4 linked regions of the Homo sapiens genome follow. The protein of the gene in region 1 purifies or fractionates together with the protein of each later gene. This does not show direct contact. Each region holds a gene or a part of one and is shown in the gene's direction. Other genes may lie near its edges.

Region 1 (5,098 bases):
ACAGTGCATGTAACATGCCTTCTTTTCCTTGTGTGTAGGGTGGTAGGGGTTGCCTCAGAGACCAGCTAAGTTTCCCCACATCAAGCACTTGCCTCAGTGTCTACCCTAGCGGTGATTCTGCAGGGGTGGGTTGGCAGACATCCTCACGTCTGGAGAACGAGGGTGATGCCGGTGTGCCTGTGTGGGCTGTGCATGCTACGAGGGTGATCGTCCAAACTCTTGTCAGCTGTGATCATTTGCTGCTTGTCCTAGGAGCAGTGGCCTCCATGTGTGGCTGGTCAGAGTCCAGTTACTTTGGCCAAGAGCCACTTTCAGACCTGAAAATGGGCTGGGTGCAGTGGCTCACGCCTGTAATCCCAGCACTCTGGGAGGCTGAGGCAGGTGGATCATGTGAGGTCGGGAGTTTGAGATCAGCCTGATCAACATGGTGAAACGCCGTCTGTACTAAAAATACAAAAAAATTACCTGGGCGGGCATGGTGGCGAGCACCTGTAATATCAGCTACTGGGGAGGCTGAGGCAGGAGAATCTCTTGAACCCGGGAGGCAGAGGTTGCAGTGAGCCAAGATCACGCTACTGCACTCCAGCCTGGGTGACAGAGTGAGGCTCTGTCTCAAAAAAAAAAAACCAACAAAAAAACCAACCCATCTCTGGAAAAAATAAATAAATCAGCTAGGTGTGGTGGTGTATCCCAGCTACTTGGGAGGCTGGGGTGGGAGGATTGCTTGAGCCCGGGAGGTTGAGTCTGTACTGAGCTGAGATTGTGCCACTGTCCTCCAGCTCAGGTGACAGAGTGAGACGCCTCCAGGGCAAGGAAGTTGTGGGGTCCTGATGGGAATCTGGATTTCCTGAATGTCACTTAGGGTGATCAGTCCATGTGATGGTCTTTGGGTGTGTGGCGGGGCCTTTCCAGCCATCTGCTGTGAGTGGCAGAGCTGAAGTGCATTAAAAGCCTAGTGCTGTGTGATCAGTCTGGGTGTGCTCAGCCATGCCACATGGCGAGGATGGCACTGCACCGTCTGGGGTGCTGTTTCCAGGAAAGCCTTCCCTTAAAGCTGGCCACTGGAGTACCTGACTCAGGCTGATAAGGTATTTATAGTTCAAAAAAAGTTGCTGAATGGCAGTAATCCCCTGGTGAGGAACATTCCCCATGGCTGTGCTCTCCAAAGTTTGCCAAGATTGGGTGAAGACGTTCACTGTGACCTTGATTGTAGTGGCAAAACCTGAAACCAAGCTGTACTCATTTGTCAGGGGACTTACAAAGTAGAGTCAGCACATATTCATATACTGTCATCCTGGGCACCAATAGGGATTAGGGAGCTATAGTTGGATTGATCTGCCATGCTGTTCAGGATGGACTGGGAAGTTGAAAAAGGAAGTTGCAGAATTGGTGGGTATGGTAAAGACTCATTTGGTCAAATGAAGGCTGGGTGTAATTGTAATAAAGATAGACACATTTGGCTTGGTGCAGTGGCTCACACCTGTAATCCCAGCACCTTGGGAGGCCGAGGTGGGTGGATCACGAGGTCAGGAGTTCAAGACAAGCCTGGCCAACATAATGAAACCCCATCTCTACTAAAAAAAAATACAAAAAAGTTAGCCTGGCATGGTGGTGCATGCCTGTAGTCCCAGCTACTCGGGAGGCTGAGGCAGGAGAATCACTTGAACCCCAGAGGTGGAGGTTGCAGTGAGCCAAGATCACGCCACTGCACTCCAGCTTGGGCAACAGAGTGAGACTTTGTCTCAAAAAGAAAAAAAAAAAGACACATTTTTCCTCTGGGATGCTTCATTATAACAAACCTTTGACAGTCGGGAAAGGAGACTTGCTTTTTTTTTTTTGAGACAGAGTCTTACTCTGTTGCCCAGGCTGGAGTGCAATGGCGAGTTCTCGGCTCACTGCAACCTCCGCCTCCCAGGTTCAAGCAATTCTCCTGCCTCAGCCTCCTGAGTAGCTGGGATTACAGGCATCCGCCACCACACCCAGCTAATTTTTGTATTTTTAGTAGAGATGAGGTTTCACCATGTTGGTCAGGCTGGTCTCGAACTCCTGACCTCAGGTGATCCACCCACCTTGGCCTCCCAGAGTCCTGGGATTACAGGCATGAGCCACCACACCCAGCCAAGACTTGCTTTTTCTAACCTCTTTTGTCACACGCCTGTGAGGGAGGGTTGAGAAGTTGAACAACTTATTTTATTTCTTTCTGTATTGATGGAAATTTTCCCATGGCAGTTTATTTAAAGAAAAAGTAGGGCCAGGCACAGTTGCTCACATCTGTAATCCCAGCACTTTGGGAGGCAGAGGCAAGAGGATTGCTTGAGGCCAGGAGTATAATACCAGCCTGGGCAACATAACAAGACCCTGCCTTTAACAAAAATTTAAAAATTAGCCAGCTGTGGTGGTGTGTACCTATAGTCCTGGCTGCTTAGGAGGCTGAGGCGGGAGAATTGCTTGAGCCCAGGAATTTGAAGCTGCAGTGAGCTATGATCATACTCCTACATTCCAGGTCGAGCAACAGAGCGAGACCCTGTCGTTAAAACAAAACTAAAAAATACCCAGCAAGGTGCAGTGGCTCTTGTATAATCCCAGCATTTTGGAAGGGTGAATCGGATCACTGCAGGCCAGGAGTTCAAGACTAGCTTGGGCAACCTAGACCCTGTCTCTTTTTTGTTTGTTTGTTTTTTGAGACAGAGTCTCTCTCTTTCACCCAGGCTGGAGTGCAATGGCCTGATCTCGGTTCACTGCAACCTCCGCCTCCCAGGTTCAAGCGATTCTCCTGCCTCAGCCTCCCGAGTAGCTGGGATTACAGGTACCTGCCACCACACCCAGCTAATTTTTGTGTTTTTAGTAGAGATGGAGTTTCACCATGTTGGCTAGGCTGGTCTCGAACTCCTGACTTCATAATCTGTCCACCTCAGCCTCCCAAAGTGCTGGGATTATAGGCGTGAGCCACCGTGCCCAGCCTATTTTTTTTTTTTAATTAAAAAATAATTTATAGTCTGGGTGCTGTGGCTCACACCTGTAGTCCTAGCACTTTGGGAGGCCGAGGTGGGCGGATCACTTCAGGTCAGGAGTTTGAGACCAGCCTGGCCTACATGGCAAAACCCGTCTCTACTAAAAATACAAACAAAATTAGCCAGGAGTAGTGGCAGGCGCCCATAATTCCAGCTACTCAGGAGACTGAGGCAGCAGTATCATTTGAACCCATGAGGTGGAGGTTACTGAGAGCTGAGATGGCGCCACTGCACTCCAGCCTGGGTGACAGAGCGAGACTCTGTCTCAAAAAAAAAAAAAAAATTTATAACTGGGCATGGTGGTGCATGCCGGTAGTCCCAGTTACTTGGGAGGCTGAGGCAGGAGAATCGCTTGAACCCGGGAGGTGGAGGTTTCAGTAAGCTGAGATAGCACCACTGCATGCCAGCCTGGGTGACAGAGCAAGATTCCATCTCCAAAAAAAAAAAAAAAAAAATTAAAAGAAAATTGCTGGATCTTATTAGTGTATAGTAATTTTTTATTGATGTGTGGGAAATTATTCCAAAATTTAGCAACTAGAAGCAACAATCACCGTCTCTTTATGTGGGGAATTTGCAGTGGCTGTGTTTGGTGTAGTGGCTCTGATATTCTAAGGTTGCAGTCAAGATGTTGGCTAAGGATGTGGTCATTTGAAGGCTTCATGGGGGTTGGAGGGTCTGCTTTGAAGATGGCTCACTAGCAGTGCTGCCTTTGGGAGGCACAGACAGTTCGAGTGTCCTCATGACAAGGCAGCTTATTTCTCCCAGAGTGAGTGATCCAATAGAGAGTAAGGCAGATGCCTGGAGGTCTTTTGTGACCTAATATCAGGATTCACATTCTTTCTTTTTTTTATTTTTATTTTTTTGAGACAGAGTTTCACTCTTGTCACCCAGGCCAGAGTACAATGGCGTGATCTTGGCTCACTGCAACCTCCGGTCCCCGGCTCAAGCGATTCTCCTGCCTTAGCCTCCTGAGTAGCTGGGATTACAGGTGCCCGCCACCATGCCCGCCTTTTTTTTTTTTTTTTTTTTTTTAAATTTTTTTAGTAGAGATGGGGTTTCACCATTTTGGCCAGGCTGGTCTTGAACTCCTGATCTCAAGTGATCCGCCTGCCTTGCCCTCCCAAAATGCTGGGATTACAGGGTGAACCACCACGCCCGGCTACACTCTTTGATTTCTATAATACCCCGTTGGTGTTACAGATCAGCTCTGGTCATCATGGGAAGGGACTGCATCAGTGGGTTAATGCCAGGAGACAAGGACCACTGGTCACCATCTTAGAAGGTGGGGGACTATCATAGTCCCGCTTCTGGCGCCTAGTGATTGATTTTGTTCCTTCCACACACAGATACCCCACTCACTTTCTCCTAAGTCCATATTCTGTTACAGTATTAGAAGTCTGTTAGAAGTCTAGAACCTCATTTTGTCAAGTACAGGTGTAGTAGTACCTGCATTTCCTTTAGTACAGTTCCTTTCAATCTGAAGACATGAGAATTTAAAGAGACAAATTACCCCTCACACACCCAGCATACAATGGTGAGGTGGGCATGGGATGACTGGTATGTATGGGATAATTATTTCTTTTCTTTTCTTTCTTTTTTCTTTTTTTCTTTGTTTTTTTTTTTTTTGAGGTAGGGTCTCACACTGTCGCCCAGGCTGGAGTGCAGTGGTGCAGTCACTGCTCACTGCAGCCTCGAACTCCTGGGCTCAAGCAATTCCCCACCTCAACCTTCTAAGTTGCTGGGACTACAGGCACATGTCACCATGCCTGGCTACTTTTTTATTTTTTGTAGAGATGACGTCTTGCTATGTTGCCCAGGCTAGTTTTAAACTCTTGGCCTCAAGTGATCCTCCTGCCTCAGTTTCCCAGTAAGTGCTGGGATTATAGGCATGAGCCACTGAGTCCGGCCTGCATATTTAGGTTTTTATTATGACCACACTGTACTTCTGATACCAAAATCTGTATTAGTTATCTATCATTGTATAACAAATGACATCAAAACTTGGGTTAAAACAGCAATACACTTTTTTTTTTTTTTTTAAGACGGAGTCTTGCTCTGTCGCCCAGGCTAGAGTGCAATGGCGTGAT
Region 2 (5,098 bases), on another chromosome or scaffold:
GTGTGGGTTTGGCAGGGAGAGCCAGAAAATGTTTGCATCTTTTGCCGGCTTGTGGTGGGATGGACAGGACAGGGAGCTGGGCACGTTGCTGTCCTGGAGGGAACCCAGGAGGAGGCGACACCTGACCCTTCTTGCAGACACTGAAGTGTAAACTGAGGCCCAGGGACTGGGGAGAGGGTGAGCCAGAGCAGGGGCACTGGGAGGGCTCAGGGCCCTGGTCCCTGGTCCCGTGGAGGGTCTGACGCCGGGGCCTCTCTCCTAGGAGATCTTCGGGCCTGTACTGTCTGTGTACGTCTACCCGGATGACAAGTACAAGGAGACGCTGCAGCTGGTTGACAGCACCACCAGCTATGGCCTCACGGGGGCAGTGTTCTCCCAGGATAAGTGAGTGGCCAGGCCGCAGCCCTGGTGCTGTGCTCCGGGTGTCCTGTCCGTGTCCCCATCCCCACCTCCTGGACGTGGTTCCCAGTAATAATGCTGCCCCTACCTTCTCTCTGTCCCCTCCCCTCAGCCCAGACAGGCAGCCAGGGCTCGCCACATGGGCCCACAGCAGCAGGCTCTTTGTTGCCGGTACTGGTGGTGCCGGTGCCAGGGTGCCACTGGGGACCAGTGGATCTGAACCTCTAGGGGCAGGGCTAGGAATTGGTGTCTTCGACTGGCTCTGCGGGATCTGGTGTTGCCCCACTGAGTGAGGTGATTGTCCCATGCTACAAAGCAGGGCAGGCCAGGGGCTGCAGAGGCAGGATTCGAACCTGGGTCACATGAGGCTAAACTTGAGGCTTCGCCTCTTCTTTCCTCCGTGGCACTGGTTGCCCCCATGTCTGCCTCTATGAGAAAGTGGAGGTGAGCTTGGAGAGGGAGGAAGGGTGTGGGCCTGGGAGCTGGAGTTTCCGCTGCTCCTGAGGGACAGGAACATTGGACCAGGACAGGCCACTCCCTTCAACTTCGCAGTAGCCCTGTAACGAGGCGTGCCAAGCCCCTCCCCAGAGGAGGAAGCTGGGCTCAGAGACTGGGTAACCTGACCGAAGGCCCACAGCCAACAGCTGGCAGCATCCCTCATCCCTGACTCGGCCTCCTGTTGAACCTGGAAAGCCAGTGTGGGCTGGAGCAGGGGTGTTGAGGCTGGAGCTGGGGCTGGAGGGGAGATGAGCTGGTTGCTCTGTCACCACTGCTCTGCTTTGTAGGGACGTCGTGCAGGAGGCCACAAAGGTGCTGAGGAATGCTGCCGGCAACTTCTACATCAACGACAAGTCCACTGGCTCGATAGTGGGCCAGCAGCCCTTTGGGGGGGCCCGAGCCTCTGGTGAGTGGGTCCCCCTTCCCACAGGGGAGCTGAGTTCCTGGTGGGAGACCCTAGATGTTACGTCTCGAGGGGCTTCAGAGTAATAGGAAGGATACCATTTACTGAGCACTTATTGTGGGCCAAGCAAGTGCACTAGCTCAGGGTCCTTTCAGCAAACTCGTGAGCAAAGGGACTATTCTTCCCATTTTACAGAGGAGGAAACTGAGGCTCAAGGCCACATGACCCTGGTGGGATTGTAATTTTGGCTCCAGCAGCCGCACTTTCTGCACCATAGCCAGTGTCCCTTAAGTCCAACAACCTCTACTTCACAATGGGGAACTGAGGCTCAGGAGGAGCAATGGCTTGCCAAAGGTGACTGCTCCTGAGTGGCAGAGCCAGGGCTGAACCCAGGCGTGCTGGGGTTTCCCACACCGACCAGTTCTCCAGCTCTTGATGGATGCTGGCTGGGTGTCCTACAGTTTAACTTGATGCTCACTGCCTGGGGTTAGTGCAGACCCCACAGGTTAAGAACTCAGTCCCGTAAGACTGACCCCCCAACTTCAGATGCCAATCACAAGTACTGGGACCCCAGGTTACCCACACCTTGTCTGACTTTGCGACGCATTAGAAGCTCCCATGATGCCCTCTTGAGTTTTGATACGTTGTTAGAACAGCTCACGGAACCGAGGGGAAGCGTGCTTACTATTACCCATGTATTGCAGAGGGTATTTTAAAGGATACAGATGAACAGCCAGATGCGCAGACACATAGGGCAAAGACTGGAAGGGTCCCCGGCAGGGGCACCGCCGTCCCCCTGGAGTTCGGGCTGTGCCACCCCCTTGGCATGTGGACGTGTTCACCAATCTGGAAGCTCTCCCGACCCTGTCCTTTTAGGTTTTTATGGAGGCTGCATTACACAGGCACGATTGATTCAATCATTGGCCATTGGGGTCGACTCAACCTCCAGCCCCTCTGCCCTCCCTGGGGCTGAAGGTTCCAAGCCTCTAATCACAGGGTTGGTTCCTTTGCCAATCAGTGCCATCCTGCAAGAGCCCTCATTAGCATAAACTCATGTGTGATTAGAAGGGGCTTGTTATGAATAACGGAAGACACTCCTTTCACCCCCATCACTCTGGAAATTCCAAGAGCTTTAGGAATTCTGGCTAGGAACCAGGGGTGAAGGCTAGATATGTACCTCTTATGGCACCCCAGGACCATGCCAAGTCCCTGCCTCTCAGTCTAGTGTTCTCTCCACGCCACACCCTGCCTCTTAGACATCCTCGCATCCCAGCAAGGATGCAAGGCTGGGTGCGACTGGAGAGAACAATGGAGGCTCCCCACAGACTGGAGACTGGAGGCAGGGTCTCCTGTCCATCCCTCTGGCTCTTCTGCATGCCCCAAGCTTGGCAGCAGGCTCGCTGCTGGCCGCTACACTGCTGGTCCGTTGATTCCATCATCTCCTCCCTTCCCCTTCTGCCCAGGCTGTTGCATCTTTTCAGAGAAAAACAGAAGTGTCTTTTCCGCAGGAACCAATGACAAGCCAGGGGGCCCACACTACATCCTGCGCTGGACGTCGCCGCAGGTCATCAAGGAGACACATAAGCCCCTGGGGGACTGGAGCTACGCGTACATGCAGTGAGCCCCTCTCGGGCTCCACCGTCCAGCTGTCTGTCCGTCCAGGTGGCCGACCTCACTGCACAGACCCCACTCCAGCCCCTCCACCCCTTCTTCATGCACAGCTGCCTTTCTATAATCCGGGCTTGACTCCCTTCTTACCACTGTATTCTGGCCTCTCCCATGCCTCAGGCTCTGGTTTGAGATCGTGCTGGGGAGGAACATGGCCACTACCCCTTATCCCATCGGCCATGTGGGAGGTATGACCCTGGTGCCTGGCAGGTTCTCCCTCTGCCCTCCACTGGGCCCAGTGGCTCAGGGACCTGGGGAAAGGAGATGGAGCAGCTCTTGGGATCCTTTGGGGAAAAGGAGGCCATTCTGGGCCCCTTGGCAAACCTCACCACTCACAGAGGCTCCTGGCCTTGATCCCTGCCCCTCCAGGTGTCCAGGGTAAAGTGTAACTCAGACTGACCTGTGGGGCACAGGGGGCACCAGCTGGCCTTGCCCTCTCTGGTCTGGGCTGTCTACCTTCCTCACTGTATCTTTGCCCAGACCCACCTGGGCCAGTAGGCCCCTGTCCCCAGCCACACACCTTAGATGCTGGCATGCCTTACTCCAGGTGCCTGTGTTTGGCCGAGGCCTGTGTGATTCCCGGTCTGCACCACATGGCGGGGTTGGGGGGCCGCTGGAGGCCACCTGCCAAGGCGTGGGATGGGATGGTCCTGCCGGTTTAGGCCGTGATTCTGGAAAACCTTGGATGGGCCTTCGTCCTATGTCAGCCTTCCCTTTGATCCTCAGGCCCTACCTGTAGAGACCTCCACTCCTAGAGCCAGTCTCAGGGTCTGGGATTTCCCTGCAGGAGCTCAGCCACCACTGTGCCATGGTGACACAGGCCAAGGCAGACATTGGCCCTCCCTTCTCCCAGCCCCCAGAGGCCTGGCCTTGGGTTCGTCAGCATGGGCCGAGGACGTTGCCTGTAGAATCCTCCTCTGCCTGGGAGTGGCTCTGTGTGGACCAGTCCCTCACTGGCCCATTCTTTTTTTGACGCAGCCAATCTGTGACCACGATTCCTCCCACAGATGCCTCCTGCTTGGATTCTGAGTGGTCAGAGATCTGTAAAGCATGACTTTCAAGGATGGTTCTTAGGGGACTGTGAAAGTGTTGGGTCTTCCTCCAGGATGCCTGCATGGGACCCCACCCGGAGCTGGTGTGGCCATTCCCCAAGTGCCACTGGCCCATGGATGGGGGTGGGTGCTGGTGCCAGCTGGGCTGGGTGTGGGTTCTGTGTCCTTCCAGGATATGTGTCATTTCCCATGAGGGGCCGGGGCAGGTGGCTGGGTGGGGGCACAGGCTGGAGTATTCTTAGTTCTACTGGTTCTACACTGTGAGGTGGCAATGGGATTTGCTCAGATGCCACCCAATAAAATGCCTGTTACTTAATCACAGTGGTGGATGGTCTTTCTGGAGGGGATGGTGGGGGCAGCCAACATCTTTTAAGTCTGGTGTCATTGCCAATGTGTCACCTGGTCATGGGCACAGTGCTCTCAGTGTGACAGAAGGAACAGTAGGTGCTGATGTTTGAAATTGTCTGTTGGAGGCGGTGGGGCTGGGTTCACATCCTGGCTCACTGCCCCCCCGCCAGCCAGATGATTGCCACAAAGTTATGCAACCTCTCTGACCTTCCATCTCTTCATCCATAAGATGGGGTAACCGCCCCCTCTCCCCGCCATGGGTCATCATGAGAATTGAATGAGTTAACACTTCCACATGCTTAGAATAGTGCCAGACACATGATGATTCAAAAATATTACCCATAAGGCCGGGTGCGGTGGCTCACGCCCGTAACCCCAGCACTTTGGGAGGCCGAGATAGGCGGATCACTTGAAGCCTGGAGTTTGAGACCTGGCTGGCCAACATGGTGAAACCCCATCTCTACTAAAAATAAAAAAATTAACCAGGCATGGCAGCATGCACCTGTAATCCCAGCTACTTGGGGAGGCTGAGACAGGAGAATCTCTTGAACCTGGAAAGCAGAGGTTGCAGTGAGCTGAGATCACGCCACTGTACTCCAGCCTGGGTGACAAAGTGAGACTCTGCCTCAAAAAAAAAAAAAAAAAATACCCGTTACCCATTTTCGTTGTAAGAACCACTATCCTGTGTGGTGATGGTTAATTTTATGTGTCACTTTGGCTGGGCATGGTG
Region 3 (5,098 bases), on another chromosome or scaffold:
ACCGCGCCCAGCCCATGTGATACTTTCTTCTATTTCTTACCTCAAATATTGTGCAAGGTAGCCCGTTAAAGCCATTAATTGGGTGGTGTTTTTCCCCTTTTTAACTAACTACTGAGTAGAATTTTGGTCTTCAGTGGTAATTGTTACAGAGTCCATTGGCTTACCATACCTCATTTTTAGTTTTGTGATTGCCCATAATGGGAGGTTTCGTGTAAAAAACCTCATAAAAAATCAAGTTTTTCCTCCTCATAATTGCAGTCTAAAGGAGGACAACACGCAGGTCTGGGAAACTGCATAGTGGAAGAGATAATCTATACATTTAAGTAGCATGCCATGAATAACACAAAAAATGGCCTGGCACGGTGGCTCACATCTGTCATCCCAACACTTTGGGAGGCCGAGGTGGGTGGATCACTTCAGGCCAGGAGACCAGCCTAGCCAACATGGTGAAACCCCGTCTCTACTAAAATACAAAAACTTAGCCAAGCACGGTGGCACGGGCTTGTAGTCCCAGCTACCCAAGAGGCTGAGGTGGGAGGATTGCTTGAGCCTGGGAGGCGGAGGTTACAGTGAGCCGAGATTGCGCCATTGCACTCCAAGCCTGGGCTACCGAGTGAGACCCCATCTCAAAAGAAAAACAGAAAAACAAACAAACAAACAAAAAAAAACAGAAAATGTGGGAAGTTAAGTTGAAAAATAAACACCTTCAAAGCTATTAACTTGGATTTTCTTTTCTTTTCTTCTTCTTTTTTTTTTTTTTTTTTTTGAGTCAGGTTCTCACTCTGTCGCCCATTCATACTCTGTCCAGTTCATTGAAAATACAAGTCTGATTCCCTTGAGTTGTGATATTCATACACACACGAGTATATATACACTTATGTGTGCATATGTATATTATATAAAGTTTTACGTGATATATAATATAAGTTTTTACTTTCTGTAAAATAAAATTTGTTAGGGCCGTATAATAGTTTTGAATATTCATATTATTGTGTTCCACATTATAAGCTCTAATTACATCGTGTTGCACTCAGATTGACATTCTGCTGTTGACACTGAAAATAACGCTTTCATTCATAGATGAATGTAATTTTCAAGCTTTTTTTCTATATTTCTTAACTTGCTTGAATGTTCCCATTTTTGCCATTTCTTGTTGTTCATTTTAACATTTTGGGGCTTGTGTTTCAGATCAGGAAGAATCACCATTATAGGGTGCAAAGAGTTTGCTCAGAGGTGAAAATGATACGAAATTGTCCCTAGAGCACATCCTATTGCTATACTATTCAACATGTATGAATTAATCTACTGGGAAAGTGTCTTGTGTAGTGTGTACTTTAAAGATGTTTTCAATCACTTTGCTTTGGATTAGAAAAATTCAAGGTAACTATAATTTTAAATGCTCATATTTTTATGTTTATTTTATATGTAGGAAGAGAAATTTTTAAAAATTGGAATAACACTATATCCCATTCTTTTCATTTATTACATTATAAACATGTTTCCAAGTGATCAAATATTTTTAAAAATGTTTAAAATCACTGCAGTATATTTTATATAATGGCTGTTTCATAATTTATTTCACTAATTCCAAGTTGTTGAACATTTGTTTCCATATCTTACAGATAATGCTTCAGTAAGCATTCTTGATCGAACATCATTTTGCACTCTATCATTTTTTAGAAGTCACCAAGAATGTTTTAAAGATGAATTCCTTTGATAGTCCCTGAAATTTAAACATTGGCTTAAACAAAAAGATAGCCTTGATTTCAGTGGCATTTAAAAAAAGAAGGCTGGGCATGGTGGCTCAGGCCTGTAATCCCAATACTTTGGAAGGCCAAGGCAGGCAGATCACTTGAGGTCAGGAGTTCAAGACCAGCCTGGCCAACATGGCAAAACTCCGTCTCTACTAAAAATACAAAAAAACTAGCTGAGCATGGTGGCGCACGCCTGTAATCCCAGCTACTTGGGAGGCTAAGGCAGGAGAATCGCTTGAACCCAGGAGGTGAAGGTTGCAGTGAGCCAAGATTGCACCACTGCACTCCAGCCCGGGCAACAGAGCACGACTCCGTTTCAAAAAAAAAAAAAAAAAAAGAAGAAGAAAAAAGAAAAGGCCATTCTTTATATAGTGTATTGTATCATATGTGACTCTAAACTGGAACTTGTTTAGGTAAAGTATATGTCTTGGAAGTATTTTGGTTTTCTCTGATCTAGTTAGCAGGTGCAGAGCAGGATGAGGTAGGATTCTGTGCTGTGTACAATCATAGGAAGTTCTGTTTTTTGAAACGGAACTGTTAATGGGGGAAGGGAGACACGTTTGTTTTTAAGAAGCCTTTATGTTTAATATTATTATAAAACTCAGTTCAAGTATACAAAGCTTATTTGTGCCTATGAACATTCAGTATCCTAAAGAAACATTTAATCCTGGTGTTGGCTAAATGACTATTTGCTGATATGCCCTTTTATCTCAAGGCTATTAGTTTCTTAAAGTACTTTGATATCACTCAATAAACTACAGTTAAACTCAGAGTTTTACATTTCATTCAGGTTGCTTAAATAATATAACTAAACATAGGTCCAATAATAGTAAAAATTCTGATGCTGTCACTTAATTTGTGCCTGGTTTCAGTATATGGCGATTGCTTAAATTACAAGCACTTGAATTTACAAATATTTTGTGTATTTAAATGGCTCATTGTACATTACATATCCCTCCTGAAACTTAACCCATGCCATTTCACAGACCCTTCCATGGTGTTTTTCTCTTTCCTCCAGTTCACTAGCCTCACTCACCAAAGACTTTATTGGTCTGGGAATTCTATTATGACCCAGAAGTGACTTGGAAGGTTCCTTTCACCCAACAACACATTCTCACTACCTTTCTTTTCTTTTCAGGGGCATCATTTACATGCTATGTTGCACAGTCAGAATGGATTTTAGCATAAAGTATGGGTTCCAATAGCTCTCGCATTTTATTATTTATTTATTTGTTTAGAGACAGAGCCTCACCTTGTCGCCCAGGCTGGAGTACAGTGGCACAATCTCGGCTCACTGCAACCTCCATCCCCCAGGTTCAAGCGATTCTCCTGCCTCAGCCTTGTGAGTAGCTGGGATTATAGGCTCCTGCCACTGTGCCCGGCTAATTTTTGTATTTTTAGTAGAGATGGGGTTTCACCGTCTTGGCCAGGCTGGTCTTGAACTCTTGACCTCGTGATCCACCTGCGTTGGCCTCCCAAAGTGCTGGGATTACAGGCATGAGCCACCGCGCCTGGGCCAGCTCTCCCATTTTATATCTCTGTGGCATTGAGGAGGTTTCTTAACTCTCTGAACCTCAGTTACCCCATGAATAAAATGAAGATAATACACTCACTTTTCACTTTGTTCTCATAATTATTATATGAGAACACTTATAAAGCAACTAGCATATGGTAGGTGCTCAATAAGTATTTTCATTTACAGGTTGATTAATGTTGCCTTAGATGATTTTTGTCAGGCATCTATATCTACCTCTTTTTCTCTAATTTGAGTACCTTCCTACCTTCCTTTTTTTTTTTTTTTTTTTGGACAGAGTCTTGCTTTGTCGCCCAGGCTGGAGTGCAACTGTGCGATCTCAGCTCACTGCAACCTTGACTTCCCGGGGCTCAAGCGATCTCCGTGCCTCAGCCTCCCGAGTAGCTGGGATTACAGGCGTGTACTACCATGCCTGGCTAACTTTTTTTTGTAGTTTGTTTTTTAGTAGAGATGGGATTTCCCCATGTTGCCCAGGCTGGCAAGATTTTAGAAATTAGTGGGGTTTTTTGTGTTTTATTTAATGGTATTGGAAAAACACTCCTTTTATTGTTTTTCATTGTGAATGTGAAGGATTCTAGCCATGTTTCAGGTTGAAGAAGCTTCTTCGCTTAGCTCAGAAACCTGTTTATCGTTTAATTTATTCTTTTTTTTTTTTTTTTTTTGAAACGGAGTCTCACTGTGTCGTCCAGGCTGGAGTGCAGTGGCGCGATCTCAGCTCACTGCAACCTCCGCCTCCGGGTTCATGCGATTCTCCTGCCTCAGCCTCCCGAGTAGCAGGGACTACAGGTGCCCACCACCATGCCCTGCTAATTTTTTGTATTTTTAGTAGAGACGGGGTTTCACTGTGTTAGCCAGGATGGTCTTGATCTCCTAACCTCATGACCACCCACCTCGGCCTCCCAAAGTGTTGGGATTACAGGCGTGAGCCACTGAACCCTGCCATTTAATTTATTCTTTTGTGAGGATATGTGGAGAACTAGCCAAGACCCGTCACAGTGGTTTACGCGTGTAATCCCAACACTTTGGGAGGCCAAGGCGGGCAAATCACTTCAGCTCAGGAGTTCGAAACCAGCCTGGCCAACATAGCAAAACTCTGTCTCTACTAAATATACAAAAATTAGCCAGGCGTGTTGGCCCATGCCTATGTACCCAGCTACTTGGAAGGCTGAGGCACAAGAATCCCTCGAGTCTGGGAGGCGGAGGCTGCAGTGAGCCAAGATCGTGCCACTTCCCTCCAGCCTGGGTGACAGAGCAAGACTCTGGAAAAAAAAAAAAAAGAAAAAGAAAGAGAGAAAGAGAAAAGGAAAGAGGAAAAGGAAAAGGAAAGAAACAAGAACTCACCTTCAAAGGAAAATTGGAAACATGGCTCAGTAAATTACAGACACCGTTATAAACTCAAGGCCGCTAACAAATACAGCTTAAATCAGAATGAAAGGTAATAGGTAGTGTTGATACCTGACTTGTGGAGGAGGAAAAAAAAGTAGGGGCAAAGAGAAAATATATTATTGAAAACTTAAAATGCTGAGGATGGCAGAGGGTTATAAAGTAAACCAATATGTTTTCATGATGACATGTAGCCTTTAAAAATGGCTGAATCTAAAACATACTTATGATGCCCATTATTTTATCTAGTGGAAATTTTCAAAAGCAAAAACCAGGAAATGATGAAGGCTATTGACACATTCAGAAAATATTCTGAGCAGTTTGTGGGTCTCCATTGTAAAGCTACAGTTGAATCATTTTTACAAGTGGGTATGAATAATTACAATTTTATATTTTGTCCTGTGGTAATTAAAAAGCAAATAGAGCC
Region 4 (5,098 bases), on another chromosome or scaffold:
TATAATTTATAACGTAGTTTTACTATTTTACTAAATTATAAATTTACTATTTTTATAATAGTAAATTTTACTATTTACTATTTTCACTTCTCCCTGTCTGCCTCAGTTTCTTCATCTGTGAAATGGGGATAGTGCTGTGGAGAAAGAATTGCATTCGTTCATGTGTGGAAAGCACCTAGCCCATTTAGAGTAACTCAGAGTGGAACCACTGGCCACAGAGTTGCTAGCAGTTGGCTGGGTTTACTGAGTTAATTCTTGAAGGGCCACCACTGCAACCTCCTTAGTATTCCTGTTCTCTTCAGTCATCTCTGTTACAAAGTATTAGCTGTGCAAAAATGAGCATGGGTTGTTTTGTGGGGCAGCATTGGATAAAATAAGTGGGATGAATGCTGCACAAATTCTTTCTTTCATTTCTCTATTTCAGCCTAGGTTGGTTTTTACTTTCCCAGGAAAATTATGACAACTCAGGAACCAGCCTACAAGGGGCCAGCTTTACGCCCCAGGTTCCCTGTTGGTGTGAGACACTTGGCACTAGAATGAGGGTGAAAGCTTGCCTTATAGCTTCCTCTTACCACATCCCATAGTGCTGACCCACAGCCTGGAGAGCAGCAATGTGTGTAGGTCACAATTAGTGAACCACAGAGGAGCCCATGGGGGTGGCAGATGGTGGAGGGGGATTTGCCTGCACTGAACAATGGAGGAGCAATATATACACACATTATATGTGAAAGATGATGGGGGATTTTGGGAAGGAATATTGCTTCTTGCACTGTGTGTGACTTCTAGACATAGTGTGCACCTCGAGGGACCACAGTTATTTTTAGCTGGGGAGAAAATCCACGGGGTGCTGGGAGAGTCAGGGCAGGAGGAAGTTTATACTCCCCATCTCCAGAAGAAGGTGGACTGCCGCTCATCTCTGGTACGCGGGGTCCTTTTGTAGTCGAGTTATTGCTTGGAGTCAGGGAAGAGCATTCACAGGTCTGGAGTAGGACTGTCGCAACTCCTTAGATGTCCAGTGAGGTCACAGGAAACCCTCCCTAGATACTGCAGTTCCTGCCAGACTCTTCAGCACTGGCATCTCTGATGAGTGCTCTGCTGCTGGTTTCTGACTTGTCTTGTGTCATTACTCTGCTGCTCATGTTACAGTCGTCTTTTTCACAGGGATGCTTGAAGATGGAAAGAAATTTGATTCCTCCCGGGACAGAAACAAGCCCTTTAAGTTTATGCTAGGCAAGCAGGAGGTGATCCGAGGCTGGGAAGAAGGGGTTGCCCAGGTATGCTCTCTCATTTGTTTTGTTTTGCTTTCTAGTATTTACCTTTTATATTTTTTTATAGGTGGCATATTTATACGGTTCAAAAATAAAAAAAGTGAAAAGTCTCACCCTCATGCCATCCCATCTGACCAATACCCCCACAAGAAGCTCCTGTTGTTAATGTTTCTTGTACTGTGGTTTAAGCACATATAAAAACATAACTTTTTTCTTGCTTTCACACACATACTGTTTTGCAGTTTACTTTTTCACTTAATGCATTTTTGACACTTGCAATACCACTACATAAAAGAGGAGTAGGCTGGGCGCGGTGGCTCATGCCTGTAATTCCAGCACTTTGGGAGGCCAAGATGGGTGGATCACCTGAGGTCAGGAGTTCCTGTAATCCCAGCACTTTGGGAGGCCAAGATGGATGGATCACCTGAGGTCCGGAGTTCGAGACCAGCCTGGCCAACATGGCGAAACCCCATCTCCATTAAAAATACAAAAATTAGCCGGGCGTGGTGGCAGGTGCCTGTAATCCCAGCTACTTGGGAGGCCGAGGCAGGAGAATCACTTGAACCCAGCAGGCGGAGGTTGTAGTGAGCCAAGATTGTGCCATTGCGCTCCAGCCTGGATGACGAGAGCGAAACTCCATTTCAAAAAAGAAAGAAAAAATGAGGAGTAAGCTCTGTTACAGCTGCCTAGTATTCGTTTATGTAAGTGTGCTATAATTTACTTGGCTAGTGCCCTATTAATGAGTATTTGAGTCATTTCCAGTATTTTGCTATTATAAACAATGCTGCAGTAACTCACCTTGTACAGACTTCATTTTCCACGTGTGCACATGTTGCCATAGGACTTACTCTCAGAAGTGGGATGAGGGGCTCAAAAGCTGTGTGTAGTGTTTTTGAGAGGTCTTGTCAAGTTACCATCTCTAGGGGTTGCACTCTGGACTGCCACCACCAGGCTATAAAGGTGCAATCTCCTCCCAGCCCCAGCATCACAGTATATTGTTAAATCTTTGGCCTCTGGACAATAAGAGTAAAACATGATATCAGTGGTTTTAATTTGTATTTATCTATTACCCATATTGTGTGAGACCACTTCTGAGACGTCATACTTATGGAGAAAGTCATTTCGTTTGTCTTGAGTGTGTTTCCTAATCTCTTTCCTCCCCATTTGTGGAAACAGCTTTTGTTCTGCCAACACTACAAAATTCCCAGGAGACAATAGGGACCCAGGGTTGCCAAATTTTAGTTGGATTCTGTCTTTCCATCAAACCTAGGAATTTTTTCTTGGCTCTAACCAGGTAAAGGGATGTTTTTCAGTGACCTGAGACCCAAGGAACTTTATAATTAGGCTCTGCATGATGGGTAATTAGTCTGCTTCCCTCTCACCCAGGAGAATTAGAAATTTAACCAAGATGAAAAGACAGATTTCTGTCTCTCTCTTTTCCAGAATACACATTGCTCTACTTCCTCTATAAAATATCACTGATTTATCTCCAAATAAACTGCTCAACTTTCAGGAACTTGAAGCCATCCCACTCCCAGGTGTCTGGGTTTCTGTTCCTGCAGGGCAGAGGGTTGGCAGTGTGAGGAAGAGGCTTTGTAGTTTACTTCCCTTGGGAAACCTTGCCAACCATAGCTTTTTGCCTCTGTCTCCCTAGTCTGTCTGGCTCTTGGATCTGTAGCCCATCCCCCATCTTTCATGCCAGCCATTGTTCATACCACAACCCATCTTCTGTGACTGCTCCAGCATTGGAACAATCACTGCGTTGTATGTACTGAGTGCTGTATCTGCCATCGAGATAGTGTTATCGGCCTACTTCACTTCCCAGGCTTGGAGAGGCATGGTCGAGTATTGGACAGATGCCTGACTCCCCCTTTAACTGGTATTTTGGGGTCAGTCACAGCCCTGTCATTTGTGAGAAGTCTGGGTAGTTTGAGATCTACATAAAATATCTTTTAAATTCTTCATAGCATATTTTTTCACCAAGTGAGTTAAAAACACAGGAAGAAGGGGAGATTGACTTGTGACCCTTTTCCTTTCCTTTTGATATTGTTTTGGTTTTACATGTTTGCAGGCGTGGAGTCCTGCCTGCCACAAGGACCATTTTGGCAGCTTTCTTTCATCCATCTTGGACATCTTTTCATGTTAATACATTTAAAGCCACCACTATATGATTTCTCATGACTAATCCCTGGTGTGGATATGCCTATGAAACCACTCCTTCTGTGATGGACTTTTGAGTTGTTAGCAGAATATTCTGGAAATAGAATTGCTGAGTCAAGGAATATGATTGTTTTGAATTGTACAAGGTAAAGCCATACCTCACTATCCTTACCACCTTGGTCCAACATGTCCCAGCTTCTGAGGGGAGCAAGGACTAGACGCTTCACAGCCTGGAGCTTCCTCTTTATTCATCCTCTGTCTGGTGGAGTTGGAAAGTCGGGAACATACACATGGAGACCAAAAGCAGAGATAAGTCAAAGGATGGAAATACTGCAGAGAACCTGCTCACTGTTCAGAAAGTAGATATTTTATACTTATTTGTGTATTTAATTTGAAACTGAAAATATACACAAATATATTTTTTAAAGTAGAAATCTCTCCTTACTGGTCACTCACTATCCATACTGTTCTCCTCACAGCAAATGTCTGGTATGTCCTTCCAAAGATGTTTTCTGTTGTAGGCATATCAATATTTTCACAAATGGTATTCAGTAAATGCTATTTTGTAGCCCAGAAAATCATATTGTCTTTTTTGAAGTTTTCCTATATGGGTAAAAGAGTATAAATAGAAAAAATACAGAAAAAATAGACTACCCTCAAGTATTACTTCCTGTGTATATATTTTTTTAAAGCAAAGTTGAGTATTCCTTTTTCAAGAAGAGCATAGATGGCACTTAACATGTCCTTTAAGTGACAGATCACTGAAGGGGACTAGGTGGTGAGACATCTGGAATGTTACCTGCCTAGCATTAGTCATTAAGACTTGCGTAGAAAGGTTGAGGGCCTGACCGTTCTGAGAGTCAGGAGGGGTTTTGAACTGCCATTGGGCTTCTTGGAGTGAGATGCAGGGGTGATGGAATATGACTGCCAACCTCCAAGTCCTGCACAAGGAGGTGGTGATGCCTGGGCAGCTGCAAAGTCACTGGAAAGTCAATACCATCCTGGCCAAGGAACACCTAGGTAAACAGCTCTTTTTCTTACAGAGACAGTTGGGGCATGTGTCCAGCTGAGTCTGTCTTCCTTGTTCTTTTCACAGATGAGTGTGGGTCAGAGAGCCAAACTGACTATATCTCCAGATTATGCCTATGGTGCCACTGGGCACCCAGGCATCATCCCACCACATGCCACTCTCGTCTTCGATGTGGAGCTTCTAAAACTGGAATGACAGGAATGGCCTCCTCCCTTAGCTCCCTGTTCTTGGGTAAGGAAATGGAATACTGAAGGGCCCTTCACTGCCTTTGCTCCTCCCATGTTATGCCCAGCGTTTGATGGGTAGCAGAGAGAACAAAAAACACCACAAGGCTATTTTTCCCCCTGCATTCTTTCTGTATTGAGTATCCTTTCAGTGTTATTAGTGTATGCTTTGAATGTAAAAATTGGTCACCCTAAGGAAAGGAATTGGCATGTGTATGTTCCCAGTTCAACTCATGGAGATGGCAGCTGTTTAAATGTTTTTCTATGTAGTTTATAAATTAAAACTGAATTGAGGACTATGGAAATGTAGGCCAAATTTGTAGTGCCAACATTTTAGTTCTTTGGAAATAAGACTCTTAATGAATGACTTTGTTCTACCCTGTGTTTCTAGAAGCTAGAGGGGGAAAAAAAAAGCC

The links. Proteins that work in one complex are often made in the same cells at the same time.
Region 2: the proteins of GPI (region 1) and ALDH4A1 fractionate together in Homo sapiens (co-fractionation; one large-scale study listed by BioGRID). This does not show direct contact.
Region 3: the proteins of GPI (region 1) and PLS3 purify together in Homo sapiens (affinity purification with mass spectrometry, with the first as the bait; one large-scale study listed by BioGRID). This does not show direct contact.
Region 4: the proteins of GPI (region 1) and FKBP1A fractionate together in Homo sapiens (co-fractionation; one large-scale study listed by BioGRID). This does not show direct contact.

What each region holds. Positions count from the first base shown.
Region 1 is NC_000019.10:34,370,111-34,375,208, forward strand, and holds part of GPI (glucose-6-phosphate isomerase), read left to right. Parts: intron 1-5,098. UniProt on the Homo sapiens protein: In the cytoplasm, catalyzes the conversion of glucose-6-phosphate to fructose-6-phosphate, the second step in glycolysis, and the reverse reaction during gluconeogenesis.
Region 2 is NC_000001.11:18,870,668-18,875,765, reverse strand, and holds the end of ALDH4A1 (delta-1-pyrroline-5-carboxylate dehydrogenase, mitochondrial isoform a precursor), read left to right. Parts: intron 1-262; coding exon 263-384; intron 385-1,184; coding exon 1,185-1,303; intron 1,304-2,808; coding exon 2,809-2,921; 3' UTR 2,922-4,336; downstream 4,337-5,098. UniProt on the Homo sapiens protein: Irreversible conversion of delta-1-pyrroline-5-carboxylate (P5C), derived either from proline or ornithine, to glutamate. This is a necessary step in the pathway interconnecting the urea and tricarboxylic acid cycles.
Region 3 is NC_000023.11:115,566,964-115,572,061, forward strand, and holds part of PLS3 (plastin-3), read left to right. Parts: intron 1-5,098. UniProt on the Homo sapiens protein: Actin-bundling protein.
Region 4 is NC_000020.11:1,371,667-1,376,764, reverse strand, and holds part of FKBP1A (peptidyl-prolyl cis-trans isomerase FKBP1A), read left to right. Parts: intron 1-1,161; coding exon 1,162-1,274; intron 1,275-2,066; exon of another isoform or gene 2,067-2,281; intron 2,282-3,586; exon of another isoform or gene 3,587-3,687; intron 3,688-4,524; coding exon 4,525-4,653; coding exon of another isoform or gene 4,654-4,689; exon of another isoform or gene 4,690-5,049; intron 5,050-5,098. UniProt on the Homo sapiens protein: Keeps in an inactive conformation TGFBR1, the TGF-beta type I serine/threonine kinase receptor, preventing TGF-beta receptor activation in absence of ligand.